2 separate regions of the Homo sapiens genome follow, and region 2 is linked to region 1. A link means that fine-mapping ties the variant in region 1 to the expression of a gene that starts in the linked region. Tissue or cell type: fibroblasts. Region 1 holds a variant in brackets; the other region holds the start of a gene. All regions are shown on one strand. Distances are between the middles of the regions.

The links. PIP is the estimated chance that this variant, and not a neighbour inherited with it, causes the effect.
Region 2: it holds the start of RNF4, and the variant in region 1 is fine-mapped to the expression of RNF4 in fibroblasts (GTEx, PIP 0.91).

Annotation. Positions count from the first base shown.
Region 1 is chr4:2,514,345-2,522,445 of GRCh38, reverse strand. It overlaps RNF4 (ring finger protein 4), which reads right to left. Exons shown (of 8, transcript NM_002938.5): 8 at 6,589-8,101. Among named protein-coding and RNA genes, the nearest start is that of FAM193A, 18 kb to the left of the region's middle. The variant G/A (reference allele first, on the strand shown) is at 4,996.
Region 2 is chr4:2,465,732-2,473,832 of GRCh38, reverse strand. It overlaps RNF4 (ring finger protein 4), which reads right to left and starts at 4,727. Exons shown (of 8, transcript NM_002938.5): 1 at 4,575-4,727. It overlaps LOC107986250 (a long non-coding RNA gene), which reads left to right and starts at 4,882. Exons shown (of 2, transcript XR_001741551.3): 1 at 4,882-5,433. RefSeq lists enhancers at 4,085-4,204, 4,249-4,821, 4,505-4,864 and a silencer at 5,015-5,184.

The sequences.
Region 1 (8,101 bases):
GCTATTAGCCCCAAAACTTTTTTTTTTTTTTTTTTTTTGAGACGGAGTCTCGCTCTGTCGCCCAGGCCGGACTGCGGACTGCAGTGGCGCAATCTCGGCTCACTGCAAGCTCCGCTTCCCGGGTTCACGCCATTCTCCTGCCTCAGCCTCCCAAGTAGCTGGGACTACAGGCGCCCGCCACCGCGCCCGGCTAATTTTTTGTATTTTTAGTAGAGACGGGGTTTCACCTTGTTAGCCAGGATGGTCTCGATCTCCTGACCTCATGATCCACCCGCCTCGGCCTCCCAAAGTGCTGGGATTACAGGCGTGAGCCACCGCGCCCGGCCTAGCCCCAAAACTTAAATGACCCAAATAGTGGATAAATTGAAGCATATCCATCTAATAAAATAATATACAGTGAGAAAAATGAACTACAAACATTAATGAATCTTAAAATATAATACAGCAGTACACCGCTTTCTATGTTTTTGCTTTGAGAACACAGTTACTCATAGCACACACTACAATGAAATATTTTCAGACCATATTCAGGAGGATTGCTGGAGGCCAGGAGCTCAATACCAGCCTGGGCAACATAGTGAGACCCTGTCTCTACAAAACACACACAAAACACTGGAAAAGAAAGTACTGCGCTGGGCACAGTGACTCACGCCTGTAATCCTAGCACTTTGGGAGGCCGAGGCAGGTGGATCACGAGGTCAGGGGTTCGAGACCAGCCTGACCAACATGGTGAACCCTATCTCTACTATAAATACAAAAATTAGCCGGGCACGGTGGTGCACGCCTGTAATCCCAGCTACTCAGGAGGCTGAGACAGGAGAATTGCTGGAACCCAGGAGGCGGAGTTTGCAGTGAGCAGAGATCATGCCACTGCACTCCAGCCTGGGTGACAGAGCAAGACTCCATCTCAAAAAAAAAAAAAAAGTACTACATATACAATATTTTATTAGTTGCTAACCTCTTACTGTGCCTAATTTGTAAATTAAACTTTATCATGTGTAAGTACATACGTATAAGAAAAAACCAATATATATACAATTTGGTACTGAGGTTTCAGGCATCCACTGGGGGTCTTGAAATGTACAGTAGTGACCAGGCATGGTGGCTCACGCCTGTAAGCCCAGCACTTTGGGAGGCCAAGGACAGCAGATCATCTGAGGTCAGGAGTTCAAGAGTAGCCTGGCCAACATGGTGAAACCCCGTTTCTACTGAAAATACAAAAATTAGCCGGGCATGGTGGCGGGTGCTTGTAATCCCAGCTACTCCATCTCAAAAAAAACAAACAAACAAAACAAAAACAAACAAACAAACATATAGAAGGACAAAGTATCATGAATAGGGTGAAGTTATCAGAGAAATGCAAGTATAGTGTCTGCTAGAAAATCAAATACAGTCATGTGCTGCTGTAGACCTTAGTCAGCAGACCACATACACAATGGTGGTCCCGTTGAGTATAATGGAGCTGAAAAATGCCTATTGCCTAGTGACAGCTTAGCTGTCATGTTGTAGTACATTGTTACATGCGGTGCCACCAGTTGTATAAAGTTATAGCACATATAATTTATGTGCAGTACATACTTAATAAGTGACTATGTTACTGGCTTAGTCATTATATTTTAAGATTGTACTCTATTATTATTATTATTATTATTATTATTTTTTTTTTTTTTTTTTTTGAGATGGGGTTTTGCTCTTGTCGCCCAGGCTGGAGTGCAGTGGTGTGATCTTGGCTCATTGCAACCCCTGCCTCCCGGGTTCAAGCTATTCTCCTATTCTCCTGCCTCAGCCTCCCGAGTAGCTGGGATTACAGGTGTGCACCACCACACCTGGCTAATTTTTGTATTTTCAGTAGAGATGGGTTTTCACCATGTTGGCCAGGCAGGTCTCAAACTCCTGACTTCAGGTGATCCACGTGCCTCGGCCTCCGAAAGTGCTGGGATTACAGGCGTGAGCCACTGCACCCGGCCCTTCTATTATTAAAAAAAAAAAAAAAAAGAAAAAAAAAAAAGGTTAGGCTTGGCACAGTGGCTCACACCTGTGTTTCAGCACTTTGGGGAGGCCAAGACAGGAGGATTGCTTTGAGACCAGCGTGGGCAACACAGTGAGACCTTGCCTCTGTAAAATATAAACAAAATTAGCTAGGCCTGGTGCCTATAGTCCCAGCTACTTGAGAGGCTGGGGTGGGAGGATCACTTGAGCCCGGGAGGTCAAAGCTGCAATGACAATGAACCATGATTGTGCCACCACACTCCAACACAGGTGACAAAGCAAGATGCTGTTCCAAAAAAAAAAAAAAAAAAAAAAAAAAGAAGTCAATTGCAAAACAGTCTCACAGGTTCTTCAGGAGGTATTCCAGAGGCACCGTCACCGCAGATGAGAGCTCCACGTGTTATCGGCCCTACAGACCTTCTGGTGGGACAAGAGGAAGAGGTGGAAAACAGTGATGATGATGACCCCGACCCTGTGTAGACTTAGGCTAATGTACACGGTTTTTGTTTTTAATTGTTATTTTTTAAAAATAATAGAGACATGGCTGGGCGCAGTGGCTCACGCCTGTAATCCCAGCACTTTGGGAGGCCGAGACAGGCGGCTCACGAGGTCGGAAGATCGAGACCATCCTGGCTAACATGGTGAAACCCCGTCTCTACTAAAAATACAAAAAATTAGCCAGGTGTGGTGGCGGGCGCCTGTAGTCCCAGCTATTTGGGAGGCTGAGGCAGGAGAATGGCGTGAACCTGGGAGGTGGAGCTTGCAGTAAGCCAAGATCGCCCACTGCACTCCAGCCTGGGCAACAGAGCGAGACTCCATCTCAAAAAAAAAAAAATAATAATAATAATAATAATAGAGACAGGGTCTCACTATGTGGCTCAGGCTGGTCTTGAACTCCTGAGCTCAAGCCATCCTCCCACATCTGCCTCTCAAAGTGTTGGGACTACAGGTGTGAGCCCCTGCACTCAGCCTCCATTTTTTCTCTTTTTTTGTTTAGATGGAGTCTCTGTTGCCCAGGCTGGAGTGCAATGGCATGATTTCGGCTCACTGCAACCTCTGCCTCCTAGATTCAAGCGATTCTCCTGCCTCAACCTCCTGAGTAGCTGGGATTACAGGCATGTGCCGCCACGCCTGGCTAATTTTGTATTTTTAGTAGAGATGGGGTTTCTCCATGTTGGTCAGGCTGGTCTCGAACTCCTGACCTCAGGTGATCTGCCTGCCTTGGCCTCCCAAAGTGCTGGGAATACAGGCATGAGCCACCACGCCCTGCCTTTTCTGTACCTTTTCTATGTTTAGATACACAAATACTTACCATCGTGTTACAACTGCCTTCAGTATTCAGTACAGTAACATGTACAGGTTTGTAGCCCAGAGCAGTAGGCTATATCACATAGCCTAGATGTGTAGTAGGCTCTGCAATCTAGGTTTAATTACACATTACACTGTACAATGTTCATACAACAGCAGAATTGCCTAACAATACATTTCTTTTTGTCTTTTTTTTTTTTTTTTTGAGATGGAGTCTCACTCTATCACTCAGGCTGGAGTGCAGTGGCGCAATATTGCCTCACTGCAACCTCTGCTGCCCAGGTTCAACAGATTCTCCTGCCTCAGCCTCCCAAGTAGCTGGGATTACAGGCGCCTGCCACCGTACCCAGCTACTTTTGTATTTTTAGTAGAGACGGGTTTCACCATCTTGGCCAGGCTGGTCTTGAACTCCTGACCTCGTGATCCACCCACCTCGGCCTCCCCAAGTGCTGGGATTACAGGCGTGAGCCACAGAGCCCAGCTTAACAACACATTTCTCAGAACATATCCCTGTAAGGTGGGGCGCAGTGGCTCACGCTTGTAATCCCAGCACTTTGGCAGGCTGAGGTGGGTGGATCACTTGCAGTCAGGAGTTCGAGACCAGCCTGGCCAACATGGTGAAACTCTGTCTCTACTAGAAACAGAAAAAATTAGCTGGGCATGGTGGTGCACACCTGTAATCCTAGCTATACTCTGGAGGCTGAGGCAGGAGAATCGCTTGTATGTGGGAGGTGAAGGCTGCAGTGAGCTGAGATCATGCCACTGCATTCCAGCCTGGGTGACAGAGTGAAAATCTGTCTCTGGAAAAAAAAAAAAAAAAAAAAAAAAAAAAAAAAAAAAAGAACATATCCCTGTAGTTAAACAACATATAACTATGTTACCCAATACATTAACTGATTAGAGAGGCAAACAAATCTTGTCTCAATAGAAGCAGAAAAAGGACTGGTAAGATTGAACATTCACTTGTGACCAAAAACAAAAATAGAGAAACCCTGTCTCTACTAAAAATACAAAAACTAGCCAGGCGTGCTGGTGCATGCCTAGCTACTCAGGAGGCTGAGGCAGGAGAATCGCTTGAACCCCGAGGTGGAGGTTGCAGTAAGCCGAGATTGTGCCACTGCACTCCAGCCTTGGCAACAGAGCAAGAATCTGTCTCGTTAAAAAAAAACAAAAACAAAAAACAGAAATTGAAGACAAATGCCACTAGGTGTCATGGCTCATGCCTGTAATCCCAGCACTTTTGAGGAGGCCGAGGCAGGCGGATCACCTGAGGTCAGGAGTTTGAGGGCAGCCTGGCCAACATGGTAAAATCCCGTTTCTACTAAAAATACAAAAATTAGCCGGGCATGGTGGTGCATGCCTGTAATCCCAGCTACTCGGGAGGCTGAGGCTGGAGAATTGCTTGAACCCAGGAGGCGGAGACTGCAGTGAGCAGAGATTGCACCACTGCACTCCAGCCTGGGCGATGAGTGAAACTCCGTCTCAAAAAAAAAAAAAAAAAGATAAATGCTTATCTCATGGTAGGAAAATGAACCTCCCTCATCTGACAGTTATCTAACTAGAACCTACAGCAAACATCTTTCTTGATGAAACACTAAAACACAAACACCATTTGTGTGTAATAATAATGTACTGGGCTAGGCTGGGCGCGGTGGCGCACACTTTTAATTCCAGCACCTTTGGGAGGCTGAGGTAGGA[G/A]TATCGCCTGAGGCGAGGAGTTAAAGACCAGGATGGGCAACGTGATGAGACCCCCGTCTCTACAAAAATAGAAAAAAAGAAAAAAGAAAAAAAAAATAGAGTTGGGGCTGGGAGTGGTGACTCACGCCTGTAATCCCAACACTTTGGGAGGCCGAGGCGGGCGGATCACTTGAGATCAGGAGTTTGAGACCAGCCTGGCCAACATGGTGAAAGCCCGTATCTACGAAAACTACAAAAATTAGCTGGACATGGTGGCACGTCCCTGTAATCCCAGCTGGTTGGGTGGCTGAGGCAGGAGAATCGCTTGAACCTGGGAGGCGGAGGTTGCAGTGAGCTGAGATCGAGCCACTGCACTCCAGCCTGGGCGACAGAGCCAGACTCCGTCTTAGGAAAAAAAAAAAAATAGCAAGGATTCTGGATACACAATATAGAGAATCAATTGTTTCTATGCTGCCAAAACAAAACAAAACCACCCCCCCACCGAAAAAGTTAATACAGACATCTTTTGAGTTTCTATAGCCAGCCTTGGGGGCTCCCTCCTTTCCAGGACCAGACCCACTCCAGCAGTACCAGTCTTAGGGATACACTGCTCCCTGCCTCCCCTAGGCTTGCTCCTGGGGTAAAGAACTGCCAGGCCCTGGGTAGCCACCAGAAGTGTCTGGTCCAATGCCTTTAGGTATCGGGGAGCCTGCAGACCCTACTGTATGCCAGCAAGAAGCTCTTTCTCATAACTTTCACAGGCCTGGCCTGGGGTCTCTGGAATTCTTTCCTCTTTCCCTAGAGAGCTTTCTGGACCTTGAAGATGGCAACTTAGCAGCCCTTATTCAGAGAGAGCTTTCTGGACAGCTTCAACTTCTTCCTGCTGGATCTCCTGGTTTCCCGTACCCCACCCTCATCAGTTTCAATTTTCCAGTGGCCTGGGGGACTGTCTCCTCTGTAAACATGTTCCATGATGTCTGTCTCACTGCCCACAGAGCCAAAAGTGCAGTGCCAGGAGCATGGTAAGCAAACTGCACTGGATGGTAGGCCTTTGGGACCCAGGCAGCCAGCATGTTAGCCTTTCTAGTCCCTGGGGACAGCTGGATAGGTACAGAGGGCAGAGGCAAAGGGAGAGCTTGGCCACACTGCCAAGCCCATTCCCTCCTTGTGGCTTTGCTGGCACTGCTCGCCTGTGGCAGTGGCTGGCATATCCATGCACTCCCAGTGCTGACTCCCACTCAGAGGGCAAATTTTGTATCTAGGTGGTCAGGGGCAAAGGGGGGTGCTGCAGTGCAAGGTTTCCAGGGCAATCTCAGTCCATCCCACTCAGAGCAGCACCCCCAGCACCTCTGAGAGACTGGCCGAGCTGAGCAGACAGCTCCTTGGTCAACCTTGCCTCTCAGAGTAGACTCTGCTCTCTTAGGGACTCCAGGGCTTGGGCTTGTGGCTGTGCTCCAAGAACAGCCTCTCACATGCTTGCTGGATTTAGGACATGGAAACTTCCTGAACACACACCAATGCAAAATACACTCAACGTGAGGCAGATAAGAACCCCGCACCTTGGCAAAAAGGGGGGAAATTGATTCCAAAGAGCAAATGAATGTGTAAAAGATATTTGGTTCAAATTAATGGTTTTATTTCCATCTGTAACACTAGCAGAGGAGTCCAAAGCAGACTGATATCCATGGATATAGTTTAAATGTAACAAAGAAAGAGTTGAACTATGTACATTGAAAAAAGGAAAGACATTTCTTCATACCAACCTTTCCCTAGTTCGCAGTTTCTGAATAGTAGAAACAAAACACATTTTTAAATCTTTCTATCAATTTAATTTAGGACGAAGTAACACAACTTTTATAATTAACCACTGAAGTTGTCTTTAAGGACAAAACTTAAATTTTAAAATGGGTGTTACCATATTTTATGAGTGGACTGACTCCAAGGTTGCCTTGCTCCAAGTCTGGGCATCGTGACATTGCCGTGATGCCCAGAAGAAAGTTAATGGCAATGATGTCCAGTCAGAGGGCAGACATGCTACACATCACAATGATGAGAGCTGCGGATTCTGCCCTCTTCAACTCCAAGTAGAAAATTATTATTTTCATTCAAACTAACTGGAAGTGAGCCAAACAGTTAAAAAGTCAGAATGAAGAATAAAACAATTTTCTTTTCACATAGAGGAGGGACACTCCTTCAGCCCCGTCTAAAGTGAATTCTGTGCTGAGTCCCTGCTCCTTCAGAAGGGTAAACTGAAGGTCAGTTATTGCTAACAAAGCCAGAAGTGGCCCCTTTCCCGCCCTGAAGATGTTTCACACGAAAAGGCCGTTTGTTTGGCGTGAGGCCCTCTGAGGAAGGACGACAGTGGAAGAGGAGGCATGCCGGCACTGTAAGGCCTCTCTCGTTAGCCACCCCCCAGGCCCTGTGCTGTCAGGGGCAGCTTGGGCCACTTTGCTGCCCCTGAGAGAACCTGAGGCTCCCGCGTACCTGTGGAGCGAAGGAGAGGTTGTCATCTGGGCCCCTGTTTCACCAGTCAAAACCTATGGAGCAGTCAGAAGCCCGAAGCATCCAAGCCCAGTGGCCAGGAAGCTTCTGAAATAAACGGCACTGGGTTGGGAAGGATGAGAAAGCCAAGACAGGTGGGCCAGGTTCTCCGAACATGGGGCAACAGTGACCTGGGCAAAAGCCTGGAACTGAGCGGCTGATAAGGCCACAATTACTGCCACCACCTCTCAGTATCTACACGGGGGCAGACGTTAGGCAGTGGGAACTGAGGACTGGAGGGCGTGTGGCAAACACGGGATGGATTTTATCAGAAAAGAGAGGACACCCAAACACGTGCCTGCCCTATTTATCTTGCATGTCCTGTGCCAGGTGAAGGACGCTGGAGCATGGGTAAGGTTCCTGAGAACAACTGGTGGGCAGAAACGGGCTGGGATGGGCACTGCTCCACAGGCAACATTAAGCCTCTGAGGGGGACACTAATAGTGCTACATCTTGTGGGCTGCTGAAAAGTAGGTAACGAATGGCCTTTATTGCACTTTTTCGTTCTTAGGAAACAGGGGAGTGCCCTGCAGAGTTTCTCTTGATTTGCAGAAATCACTGCAGATCAATGATAAGGTGCAGGCAG
Region 2 (8,101 bases), 49 kb after region 1:
TCAGGCTCTACTTTTTTTTTTCTAGACAGAGTCTCGCTCTGTCGCCCAGGCTGGAGTGCAGTAGTGTGATCTCGGCTCACCACAACCTCTGCCCCTCCAGGTTTAAGCAATTCTCTGCCTCAGCTTCCAGAGTAGCTAGGATTACAGGCGTGCGCCACCACGCCCTGCTAATTTTTTGTATTTTTAGTAGAGACGGGGTTTCACCATCTGGCCAGGCTGGTTGTGAACTCCTGACCTCGTAATCCACCCGCCTAGGCCTCCCAAAGTGCTGAGATTACAGGCGTGAGCCACCAGGCCCGGCCAGGCTCTACTTCTAATTCTAGTTCTCTTGCTATTTCCACCACATCTACAGTTACTTTTTCCATTGAAGTCTAGAACCCCTCAAAGTCACCCATGAGGGTCAGAATCAACTTTTTCCAAGTTCTTGTTGTGTTAATTGATTTTTTTTTTTAAGACGGAATCTCACTGTTGCCCAGGCTGTAGTGCAGAGGCACAATCTCGGCTCACTGCAGCCTCCACCTCCTGGGCCCAAGCGATTAACCTACCTCAGCTCCTCAAGTAGCTGGGACTACAGGAGCGTGCCACCATGCCTGGCTAATTTTTGTATTTTGTTGGTAGAGACGGGGTTTCACCATGTTGGGCAGGCTGGTCTCAAACTCCTGACCTCAGGTGATCTGCCTGCCCCAGCCTCCCAAAGTGCTGGGATTACAGGCGTGAGCCACCGTGAACTGCTGATGTTGATATTTTGACCTCCTCCCATGAATCACAAATATTCTTTTTTTTTTTCTTTTTTGAGATGGAGTCTCGCTCTGTTGCCCAGGCTGGAGTGCAGTGGTGCTATCTTGGCTCACTGCAAGCTCCTCTTCCCGGGTTCACACCATTCTCCTGCCTCAGCCTCCCGAGTAGCTGGGACTACAGGTGCCCGCTGCCAAGACCGGCTAATTTTTTGTATTTTTAGTAGAGATGGGGTTTCACCATGTTAGCCAGGATGGTCTCGATCTCCTGACCTTGTGATCCGCCCACTTCGCCTCCCAAAGTGCTGGGATTACACGGGTGAGCCACCGTGCCTGGAGACAAATATTCTTAATGGTATCTAGAATAGTATATCCTTTCAGGAGGTTTTTAATTTACATTGTTGATACCCATCAGAAGAATCACAATCTATGTAGCTGTAGCCTTACAAAATGCATTTCTTTCTTTCCCCCTGCCGCCCTTTTTTTTTTTTTTTTTTAAGAGACTGGCAGTGGAGGGGGTGGTCTCACTATGCTGCCCCGGCTGGTCTCTAACTCCTGAGCTCAAGCGATCCACCAGCTTTGGCCTCCCGAAGTGCTGCGAGTACAGGCATGAGCCACTGTGCTCAGCCTCAAGATGCATTTCTTAAGTAAGATTTGAGAGTTGAAATTACTCCTTGATCCATGGGCTGCAGAACAGATGTTAACATTAATCTTACTCATCTCCATGAGACCTCTTTGGTGACTAAGCACATTCTCAATGAGCAGTAATATTTTGAAAGAAATCTTTTTTTCTGAGCTGTAGATCTCAATAGTGGGCTTAAAATATTCAGTAAAACATACTGTAAACAGATATGCTACTATACAGGCTTTCCTGTTTCAATGATCAGCACACAGTAGATTTTTGCATACTTCTTAAGGGCCCTAGGATTTTCAGAATGGTAAATGAGCACTAGTTACAACTTAAGTCACTGGCCACACTAGCCCCTAACAAGAGAATCAGACTGTCCTTTGAAGCCAGGCATTGACCTTTCTCTAGCTATGAAAGTCCTAGATAGTATTTTTTTTTCCATATAAGGCTGTTTCATTTACATTGAAAGTCTGTTGTTTAGTGTGGCCACCTTCATCAATTATTTTAGCTATATGTTCTGCATAACTTGCTGCAGCTTCTTCATCAACACTTACTGCCTCACCTTACACTTTTACATTACAGAGGTGGCTTCTTCCCTTAAACCTCATGAACTAACCTCTGCCAGTTTCAAACTTTTCTTCTGCAGCTTCCTCACTCTTCACAGAATTGAAGAGAGTTAGTACCTTGCTCCGGATTAGGCTTTCGCTTAAGGGAATGTCATGGATGGTTTGATCTTCTATCCAGACCACTAAAACTTTCTCCCTATCAGCAATAAGGCTGTTTGGCTTATCATTCATGTATTCATTGGAGTAGCATTTTAATTTCAAGAACTCTTCCTCTGCATTCACAACTTGGCTAACTGTCATTCAGCACAAGAGGCCTAGCTTTTGGCCTATCTCAACTTTTGATACGCCTTTCTCACTAAGGATAAACATTTCTTAACTTCACTTAAAGTAAGAGAGATTCAACTGACTGCTCCTTTTGCCTGGACACTGTAGGGTCACTGACTGGCCTAATTTCAATATTGTGTCTCAAGGAATTGAGAGGCCTGAGGAGAGAGACTGGGAACTGCCAGTCAGTGGAGCTGTTAGTACACACCCAACTTTTACCAATTAAGTTCACTGTCTTATATGAGTGCTATTCATGGTAACCCAAAACATTGATCACAGGTCACTATAACAGATGTAACAATGAAAAGGTTTGGGGCTGGGCATGGTGGCTCATGCCTGTAATCCCAGCACTTTGGGAGGCCGAGGCAGGCGGATCACTTGAGGTCAGGCGTTCGAGACCAGCCTGGCCAATATGGTGAAACCCCGTCTCCACTAAAAATACAAAAATTAACTGGGTGTGGTAGTACATGCCTGTAATCCCAGCTACTCCGGAGGCTGAGGCAGGAGAATCACTTGAGCCCAGATGGCAGAGGTTACAGTGAGACCGAGAACACGCCAGTGCACTGCATCCTGGGTGACAGAGTGAGATTCCACCTCAAAAAAAAAAAAAAAAAAAAAGTGTGAAATATTGTGAATTACCCAAACGTGACACAAGAGACACAAAGTGAGCACATGCTGTTGGAAAAATGGCTGGCATTTACAGACTTGCTCGATGAATCCTTGCTATAAACCTTCACCTTGCAAAAAAAAAAAGGCAGTATTTGCAAAACACAATAAAATGAGTTATCTCTTATTCCCTCCATCCTCACCCAGCTACAGGAGGACCACGACTGTTTACTGCTGTATTCCAAGCAGAAAGGTTGGCATACAGGAGACCTCAAAAATACGCTACTTTGATCTTGAGGAGAGTGAAAAATCTTACTCATTTTATGTACAAAGCACAGATGTGCATACATTATATAAAAAGAAATAGTTTACGTATGGCATTAAGATTTCATGAAGATTAGAAAAACAATGTTTACAAAAGGTCCTTACAAAGGTAGTAATTCAAGAAAAGATCAATAAACGATGTGTTAAAGTAAGATTTTTGGAAGCTCAAATTCAGGCAATACAAAAGCCAGCAATATATCTTGCTACTCGAATGCCTCTATTTCACCTCAAACTCACAGATAAAACTGAACCCAATATGTCCTTGTCCATTAAAAAGCAAATCACCAAGAAAGTAACAAAAGATTCCCTTCAATGTCTCTTTTATTGACAGTGGTCCCAAAACTCCTGGTCAATGAATTCAAAACCCAAATCTTGCAGGTAGGACTTAACCTCATCTGCTGCCAAATAGCTGGCTATGTGACCTTGGGCAGACCACTTCACTTTTCTGGACCTCAGTCTCCCCAGTCAGTTGGACAGTCTAAGCCAGGCTCCAGAGCTGAGACCCTACGTCTGGCTCAAGAACTTGGTGCAGAAACAGAACGAAGATTATTAAGTTTGTGAACGTCTATGGGAACTGACAAGTGAAAGACAAAAGCTGAAATCCCTACCAAAACGGCTTGCCCAAGCTCTATCCTTTTCCCTCTTCCCTCGATGGATCAAAGGCGGAAAAGCGGTGTTTACTAGCAACTCTGTTTCGGGTCGTGAGAATCTTCATACACCTGTCTATAGGCGCGCCAGAGCGGTGAAGGGCCCGAGCGGTGCAGGGCTGGGCCGCAAGCCTCACAGTCGCACGTTCCACCAACCACCAGCCGGGGCCCGGAAGCGCGCCCGGAAATCGAGGCCCTACTAAGTTTTAGACTGCGACCTCGGCGCCCCCACGGTCAGGCCCGCACCCGTACTCAGATCCTCCCGACCTACAAAAGGCCCCGCCACGCGGCCCACGCACCCCGGCAAACTCGCAGGCCCCACGATGGCGGGGCGGCGGCGCGAACACACAAAGGAGGCGTCGTCAGCGGGGAACAAAAACCCTGCCCGGGTCTTCCCCCTAACAGCACATCCTGCCCGACTTTCCAAGTGACCTTGGGGGCGTTCCTGCCCCTCCCAGAGTCTCAGTTTCCCTTCCTAGGCTAGGAACTAAGCCCCATGGCCGCGGCCCCCCAGGGTGAGCCGAGACCCAGACGCAGACCTCCTAACTTCTGTTGCCCGCGCCAAGCCGGGCTCGGTGCGCCCGCGCGGACGGCAGTGCGAGCGACCAGAGCTGGCTCGAGGTCCCGGGCTGCAAAGCCTCGGCTGGGTCAAGCCGCGCAGCGCGGCTCCCCCAAGAGGCGCGGGCCGAGGCCTCTGTAGGCCGCGAAGCTGCCTAAACCTCGCATCTGCAAGGCCCTGACTTACCGCTGCTTTCCCGCAAAGCTCGGCCTAACCTGGAGCTAGTTAGGTCCGCAGGCGCCACCGCCGGCGCACTCCGGAGAAGAAGCTCCTTCTTCAGCCGCCCAGGAGAGCTCCTCGAGAAAGATGCCGCCGCCTCAACAGCAACCCACTTCCGCTTCGGAGGCCTCGGCTCCGCCCCCCATCATGTCCCCATTGGCCGCCCGCCTACTCTACTTCCGCGGTCGGCCGGGTAAGGACAAATTTTTTAATCCTATTGGATAAGAAAACCATCTGTTACCACTTTAAAACGCGCCTCTTTCCGCCCCCGCCCACAATCGAGCGCACTAACTCGCACCTTCCGGCAAGAGACGGCGCGGGCGCGCCCCGCCCGCAAGGTTTTTCGGGAGTCACGGTCTGAGGGCGACCCGGGCGACCCGGTCGCCCGTGCCCGGCTGCCACTGACCGCTCCAACGCCGCCAGGGACGACCCGCCAGCTGCCTCCGGAGCCGAGCAGGCCCCGAACCTTCCCATTCCTAGATTTCCAGCCGCACAACAGCCGCGGTGCCCCTGGCTCGACGCAGCTGGCCGGAGGCGCGGAGCTGGTCGTTCGTCCCGCCCGCCGTTCCGCGCCCCTCTCCCGGCTCTTGTTTCCTCGCCTCTTAACGAGGCCTTTGTGAGGAAGGTTGCTGGGCCTTGGGACTCTGACGATCGGCTGGAAACCAGGCCTGGCCCTGTTTCAGCATCCCCGCGTGCCAAGCCCTGGGCCGGCGTGCGGGTCCCTGCCCCTGCGAGGAAGCTGGGACTTTTGCAGGCCTGGGTGGAGACGTGTACATAACAGAGGAAGAGTGTGGAGGATTGGAGGACTCAGGGCAGCACGGCAGAGGTGCATGCAGGTCCCCGGTCGGACTGGAGAATGGGCGGTGGGTTTCTTGAGCTCCAGTCCCTGAGCTCGACTTTGACGTGGGTTTAGCAACCAGGAAAAAAGCCCACCTTGTCCCTGCTGCCTGAGAATACCCAGACCTTAGTCCATGGCCAGCATCTCTGGTCCCTCGGCACCCTCAGGCAACGTGAAGGTCACCCCAAATGCCTTGGGTTACATTGTTTCCTTACAGTGAGTTTGTTTGTTTTAGTGGCGCGATCTCGGCTCACTGCAAGCTCTAACCTCCTGGGTTCACGTGATTCTCCTGCCTCAGCCTCCCGAATAGCTGGGATTACAGGCGCCTGCCACCACGCCCGGCTAATTTTCTTTGTATTTTTAGTAGAGATGGAGTTCCATCATGTTGGCCAGGCTGGTCTCGAGCTCCTGACCTCAGGTGATCCACCCTCCTTGGCCTCCAAAAGTGCTGGGATTACTGGTGTGAGCCACCTCGCCCGGCCACCTTACAGTGAGTTTCTAACCTCGAAAATGGAGTCAAATAACGGAATGACAAGGCAGATAGAAACCAGAGCATTAACGTTTTTGTGTTGCATTTACAAACAATATGTGTTTGCTATTTTTCGTAATTGTAAGGAAATCTGGCATGGTAGAGTATCTGATAGATAAATGTAATTCTCATGTAAAATATCTAAGTATTTGTGTTTTTTGTTTGTTTGTTTGTTTGTTTTGAGACGGAGTCTCGCTCTGTCGCCCAGGCTGGAGTGCAGTGGCGCGATCTCGGCTCACTGCAAGCTCCGCATCCCGGGTTCACGCCATTCTCCTGCCTCAGCCTCCCAAGTAGCTGGGACTACAGGCGCCCGCCACCACGCCTGGCTAATTTTTTTTTTTTTGTATTTTTTAGTAGAGACGGGGTTTCACCGTGTTAGCCAGGATGGTCTTGATCTCCTGACCTCGTGATCCACCCGCCTCGGCCTCCCAAAGTGCTGGGATTACAGGCGTGGGCCACCGCACCCAGTCTTTTTTTTTTTTTTTTTTTTTGAGACGAGGTGTCACTCTGTCAGCCAGGCTGGAGTGCAGTGGCACAATCATGACTCACTCACTGCAGCCTCGACCTCCCCAGGTTTAGATGATCAACCCACCTTGGCCTCCTGAGTAGCTGGGACCACAGGTGTGTGCCACCATGCCTGGCTAATTTTTTTGTATTTTTTTTTTGTAGACACTGGCTTTCGCCATGTTGCCCAGTCTTGTCTTGAAGCCCCGGGCTCAAGTTATCTGCTCACCTCGACCTCCCAAAGTGTTGAGATTACAGGCATGAGCCATCACACCCTGCCCTAAGTATTTGATTTTTGATAGCGACTGTAAGTTGAAAGGTATAACATTTTCCGAAGTTTGTGATTATAATTGGAGCAAAGAGAACTTAAAAGTTTAAAAGAAATGAAGACATTTAATATATCTATGAGAATTATTTAAATATTAATACTTGATAAGGCAGACAACTGAAATGCTAAAAAATAAAATTAGATTCTACGTGTATAAATGCAGTTGAAAATGTTTAAGAGAATTTCAGTTCATAAATGGGGCCGTACATGATTAATCAAAATGGTGGTTAAAAATGATCAGATTTAGGGCGGGCATGGTGGCTCTCACCTGTAATCTTAACACTTTCGGAGGCTGAGGTGGGAGGATTGCTTGAGCTGAGGAGTTTATAGATGAGCCTGGGTAACGTGGTAAAACCCCCTCTCCACACACACACACACAAATAATAATTAGCCGGGTGTGGTGGCATGTCCCTGTGGTCCCAGCTACTCAGGAGGCTGAGGCAGCAGGATTACTTGAGCCCAGGAGGTCATGGCTGCAGTAAGCTGTGATTGCACGTCAGCTTGATTGACAGAATGAGACCCTCTCTCTCTCAAAAAAAAAAAATCAGATTTAGAAAAAGTAATATTAGTAATTTGTATTTTACAGCCTAAGGAAAAGTTAGGGTTTTCTGTTTGTAACTGTAATATATTGAAGATGTGATGTTGAAAAAGTCTCTATAAATACCAGTTTCATGCTCAAAGACTGCCTTCAGCCAGGGCAACATAGTGAGACCTCATCTCTACTAAAAATAAAAAATTAGCTGGGTATGGTGGTAAGTGCATGCAGTCCCAGCTAGTAGGGAGGATGAGGCAAGAGGATCACTTGAGCCCGGGAGTTTAAGGCTGTATGAGCTATCATCACGTCACTGCACTCCAGCCTGGGTGACAAAGCGAGACCCTGCCTCAAAAACAAAAACAAAAGCTGCTTTCAAGTCTTCTCCAAGCCTCACTTGCACTGAACTTGTTCCTTCACAAATAGCGCTTCCCTTGGGCCCTGAACGCCTGCAGCTTAGAGAAAAGACCGGCACCTTGGTGCTCCCATAGTCCCACAAGTCGAAACCAGCTGAATGCAGGTTCCTGGGCCTCACACCAGCTACTAAATCTGTTTCTTCACTATTTCCAAAGAAAGCCCCTGCCCAAGTGGGTCTCAGATGCTATCAACAAGGATCTTCTGACTAGCCTGTACTCAGGCAAAATGTCCACTCCCCAGGCAGTCCAGCCAGGAAAGGTTCAGAGAGGGATTGTCAGCACTAGCTGGGCCATATCTCACTCTGGCTGGCCCCCTTTGGGGGAGTAGCTTGATTCTCTGTAAAGAG